Linked DNA regions of Homo sapiens: region 2 is linked to region 1. The links come from fine-mapping of genetic effects on gene expression. Tissue or cell type: nucleus accumbens. Region 1 holds a variant in brackets; the other region holds the start of a gene. All regions are shown on one strand. Distances are between the middles of the regions.

Region 1 (2,840 bases):
GTCTCAAAAAAAAAAAAAGAAAAGAAAACATCAGGTACGATCAGTGGTGTTTTATTAAACTAAATTTTTAAATTGTGCTTACAGACATAAAATTGTGGAAGAGAGATCATCAGATTATTTGCAGGAAGACATCTTAGTGGAAGTTGGACAGTTGGAGAGAGCTGCTTTGGTTGTGTGCCTATGTGTGAGTGAGTTGGGGAGAATTACTTTGGTGTGTGGGCCTGTGTGTGAGTGAGTTGTGCAGAGTCGCTTTGGTGTGTGGGCCTGTGTGTGAGTGAGTTGGGAAGAATTGCTTTGTGTGTCTGTGAGTGAGTGTGTCTGTGTGTGTGTTGTGTTGCTTTTCAGAGTTATTCAACTCTTATAAAAATGTCTTTATTTTCTAAGAAAGAAATAGTTGTTATCACTTTGAAAATATGATCCATGATTGTGTTTTAAAACTATATATATGGCCATGTTGTAACATTTTTTAAAAAGACCATCTGCAGAGCAAGGTGCTTCAGTGATTATCTCAGCACGAGGAAATCACTTCATTTTTTGTGTGCTTAACTGTACATTCTCAATTTTTGCCATGGAAATGCATTATGTTTGTAATCATAAAAGAACACACTTACTGGGTGAAGAGGAAGGACCCTGACACATGTACTAAGAAGACAGCATGGGCCCACGCATCTGACCACGTGACTGGTGTCACGTGCTTGACCAGCTGTTTATCAGCTTCGCCTCTCCACTTGCAGGGCAGCTGAGCACAAATACTCCAGGTGAGGTCATGCCCAGCCTGTCATCAGATAGCACATCAACATAAATGCAGTATCACTTCAGGGCTGTGAGGTCTCAGAGGGAGGGGAAAGGGTGAACTAGAAAATGAAGAGGGGCGTCCTGAAGGAGGTGGCAATCAAACTGCATCAGCTGGAGCTGGGCAGGACATAGAGGGCATCTTGAGTAAAAGAAGCAACTGGACTCCAGGGAAGAGGAGAGGAGGGCCCAGGTGCCACGGTCCCTACAAGATGAGACTTGGGGACTGGAGGGCCAGGCTGGGAGAGGGCAGACCCCTTTGCCATGAGCACAGGCAATGTGGGGCCAGTTCTTAGTGACATTTCAGATGGTGACCAGTCAGAGGACAGCAGGACGTGGTGGTCATCTACTCTCTTTCACAGGGGACACAGTGGGCCCAGCACCCCGGCCACATGTGATGGAGCCTCCAGGCCTGCCCAGCACCTACTGCCCTGGGACAGGCTCTCTTTCAAGTCAGCTCCTCTGTCCAGGAAGCATCTGAGAGGCCCTGTGGTCCTGGCCAAGGAGGCAGGCCGTAAGGAGGGCAGGCCCGAGGACGTAGGTGTGGCAACACTCCGTGTGGAGTAGTCTCTGAGGCCAGACCTGCGGTTCCTGTTTCCTGTGCCCTGGGGACCCAGAGAAAGAAGACGGATGGGCGCTGCAGTGGGGCGGAGCAGGCCTGAGCCCAGCTCGAGGAAAGCTTGCCTT[C/G]TCGTCTAGTGTCCCCGTGTTTTACATAATTAGGTAAGTCACTTAATGTCGCTGTGTCTTGTTAGAGAAGCTACTAATCCTTAGAGCTAACAGAACTAACTAATTAGTGTAGAACACTTGGAAAATATAAGAAATTCAGATGTAGAGTGTAATGTCCCAGTCCTCCCGGCATTGATGCTCGCACAGTGTCCCTGGTAGAGCCGCGGGCCTGGCTGCATCAGGAGGGATGGGTCTTGGAGGCGGTGGCATAATTGAGACACCTGTTCTGAAGCCCCAGGGCTGCCGGCCACACACCCTGCCCTGCTTAGCCAGCTGTAGGCCACGTGGGGACAACAAAAAGGGAACTATCCAGGGGCCATCTGCCTTGCTACCCCGGCACCTTGAGGCAGGGGCAGCCAGGTCAGGGGACCATGGGCTCAGAGCCCGTCGGAGCCACAGGGAGGTGCTGACATGGCCTGAGGGCTGGAGCTTCCCCCTGGGAGTGCCTGGGCTTCCACAGACTGGTGGTGGCCGAGGTCAGGGGAGCCGGATGTGGCAAGCCCCGGGTTTGGCTCTGGACACTGCCCATGACTGGCCATGCCTCAGCAAACCTGCTTTGCCCTCCGCCTTCTCTTCTCTGAAACGGAGCTAATGACGCCGCCTCGCAGCTCCTCCAGAAGGTAAAGACGGGATTACGGGACACCTGGCACACAGCCTGGCGGATGGCACTCACTGCTGTTTTCCTCCGTGACAGAGAACCGCAGAACTTCCTTCACAGTTGGCGAGCTATTCAGAAATGATACCCGAGTCCGAGGCTCGGCCTTCACTCGCTCCAAGCTCCGGTGGCACCTGCAGCCACCTGTAGGGTGTGCCTTTTCCTCTAGTATTATTGGAAATAAGATAGACAATCAAGTGTTCACTTCCTAAGGATGTATGGAGCTGTCGGCAAATCATTAATCTCTCTTTAAACCACGGTGACAATATTTACATTTAAGATCAAGATGATGATTATCTGAAGAACTCCCCTGGAAGCTCTTCTCACAACTGGAAAAACACAGCAGCCAGTTAGCAGAGCCACGTCCCAGGCCAAAATAACTGCCTGACAGTCCACGGGGCCAGGAGTCTACAGGGTGTTGGCGTGGGGAGGCGTGCTTCCCGCAGAGGCTGGAGGGCTGCTGTTGGCAGAGTAGATGGAGCTGCTCGGGGCACAGCATTCTGGCCCAACCTTGCAGGAATGTGGTTCTGACAAACCAGCTGGAGAAAAGCATTTCTGAAAAGAACTGTTTTAAGTTATTAAAAAAAAAAAAAAAGAATTTGGGGGCCTGACACGGTGGCTCATGCCCGTAATCGCAGCACTTTGGGAGGCTGAGACAGGTGGATCA
Region 2 (2,654 bases), 320 kb before region 1:
AGGGTCGGGGTGGGGAACCTCAGAGGATCAATGATGCAGCCTGTATTGTCACCAGGGCTCATCCCAAAGCAAATCCTGCTGAAGTTCTCCTCTGAACAACCCTTATCACTCATGCTAATATGTTGGATCCTGCAAGTCACAAATACGAAGGTATGAGCATTGGCCGAATCCCAACAGGGAAACTTCACCGGGAAGGTGAAGACCCCTTTCCATTAAGATAACAAACAGAACCTAGAAGGCCCGTAGCATGGTGGCTTAGAACATGTGGGCCTTGGATGGGATCCTGCCAAGGGGTGTGTGACCTCTCCGAAGCCTCCAGGGATGATACTACTCCCTGGGGTGCTTATGCCAACCACGTTAGAGACAATGGTTTCTGTACCCATTGCCTGGGGCTGCCATAATAAAGTGCCACACACTGAGTGGCTTAAAACAACAGAAACCTATTGTCTCACACTTCCGGGGGCCAGAAGTTTGAAACCCAGGTGTGTTAGGATCCTGCTCCCTCTGAAGGCTCCAGGGAAGAGTGTCCTCTGCTCCCTCCGAAGGCTCCAGGGAAGGGTCTGTCCTCTTAGGCTTCTGGTGGCTTGCAGGTGCAGCCCTCCAATCCTCCTCCCCAAGCGGCCTTCTGCCTATAAGGACACGAGTCATACTGGATGAGGGGCCCACTAATTGATGGCTTCTGTAAAGTCCCCATCTCCAAATAAGGTCACATTGTGAGGTACTGGGAGTTAGGACTCCAACATAGCTTCTCTGGTGGACACAATTCAACTCCTAATAACGTCCACACAACCCCAAGCAGGGCCTGGCACCCTGTGTGCTCTCTGGAGAGCGGCTGAGTCAGGCTCTGGCAGTGTCTAGGCCATCGGTGACTGCAGCCCCTGGACGGCATCGCCCACCACAGGCCCTGGAGGCTGCCCCCACGGCCCCCTGACAGGGTCTCTGCTGGTCTGGGGGTCCCTGACTAGGGGAGCGGCACCAGGAGGGGAGAGACTCGCGCTCCGGGCTCAGCGTAGCCGCCCCGAGCAGGACCGGGATTCTCACTAAGCGGGCGCCGTCCTACGACCCCCGCGCGCTTTCAGGACCACTCGGGCACGTGGCAGGTCGCTTGCACGCCCGCGGACTATCCCTGTGACAGGAAAAGGTACGGGCCATTTGGCAAACTAAGGCACAGAGCCTCAGGCGGAAGCTGGGAAGGCGCCGCCCGGCTTGTACCGGCCGAAGGGCCATCCGGGTCAGGCGCACAGGGCAGCGGCGCTGCCGGAGGACCAGGGCCGGCGTGCCGGCGTCCAGCGAGGATGCGCAGACTGCCTCAGGCCCGGCGCCGCCGCACAGGGCATGCGCCGACCCGGTCGGGCGGGAACACCCCGCCCCTCCCGGGCTCCGCCCCAGCTCCGCCCCCGCGCGCCCCGGCCCCGCCCCCGCGCGCTCTCTTGCTTTTCTCAGGTCCTCGGCTCCGCCCCGCTCTAGACCCCGCCCCACGCCGCCATCCCCGTGCCCCTCGGCCCCGCCCCCGCGCCCCGGATATGCTGGGACAGCCCGCGCCCCTAGAACGCTTTGCGTCCCGACGCCCGCAGGTCCTCGCGGTGCGCACCGTTTGCGACTTGGTGAGTGTCTGGGTCGCCTCGCTCCCGGAAGAGTGCGGAGCTCTCCCTCGGGACGGTGGCAGCCTCGAGTGGTCCTGCAGGCGCCCTCACTTCGCCGTCGGGTGTGGGGCCGCCCTGACCCCCACCCATCCCGGGCGAGCTCCAGGTGCGCCCCAAGTGCCTCCCAGGTGTTGCCCAGCCTTTCCCCGGGCCTGGGGTTCCTGGACTAGGCTGCGCTGCAGTGACTGTGGACTGGCGTGTGGCGGGGGTCGTGGCAGCCCCTGCCTTACCTCTAGGTGCCAGCCCCAGGCCCGGGCCCCGGGTTCTTCCTACCCTTCCATGCTGCCAGCTTTCCCTCCGCCAGCTGCTCCAGGAAGCTTCCAGAAGCCCCTGCGCGGGCCTTGGCTTGCAGCAACCCTTTAGCATACTTAGGCAGAGTCCCATATTTCCTTCCTGCTGGAGGCCAAGTTCTAGGGGCCTTCTGGTTACTATGGCTGGTGTTTGTGTACATCATACCCTAACTGTATTCATCAACACTTAGAGTAAGCAAGGCTCGCTGGAGAGCCACACACACTGGGCACCGTAATGTCGGTTATAACACCGCAGAGGAGTTCTGAACTATGTATTTCGCACTCCTGGGTTCATCATCTCCTGAAATCTCAGGGTGGTGTTTGCTCTCAGTTGCTTCAGCTGAGTAGCTGGCTTTCTGTCCTGGAAAGCAGACTTTGTACATGTGTGTGCAACCTATGCCTGCTGAGATCATCATCAGACAGGGAAGCGGCTTGGTCCAGAGAGCTGTTCTCAGTAGAATGTTAAGCACAGAGAGCTGAGAATTAGACTGGTTATTTACATAGACATCCAAATAGAAACCTATAGAGTATCTGTTAAGTCAGGCTCTCCCGTCATCTCCCCCATCCCTGGGCAGGTGTCTAGGAGATGGTTTTGTTATTTTCAGGGCCCTCTCAATGGCTAAAACACTCTGGGAGATGAACAAGATTTTAAAAACCCAAAGCTTAGCGCACCTGGTGGGTGGGGGTGTGAAAACTTTGAAGGAAACCGCGTCAAGAGCCT

Evidence for each region. PIP is the estimated chance that this variant, and not a neighbour inherited with it, causes the effect.
Region 2: MGMT starts here. The variant in region 1 is fine-mapped to the expression of MGMT in nucleus accumbens (GTEx, PIP 0.92).

What each region holds. Positions count from the first base shown.
Region 1 is chr10:129,783,795-129,786,634 of GRCh38, forward strand. LOC107984281 (a long non-coding RNA gene) reads left to right here. Exons shown (of 11, transcript NR_186705.1): 2 at 1,155-1,512. Among named protein-coding and RNA genes, the nearest start is that of MIR4297, 58 kb to the right of the region's middle. The variant C/G (reference allele first, on the strand shown) is at 1,480.
Region 2 is chr10:129,465,693-129,468,346 of GRCh38, forward strand. It overlaps MGMT (O-6-methylguanine-DNA methyltransferase), which reads left to right and starts at 1,549. Exons shown (of 5, transcript NM_002412.5): 1 at 1,549-1,604. RefSeq lists silencers at 1,189-1,628, 1,649-1,848 and an enhancer at 1,415-2,337.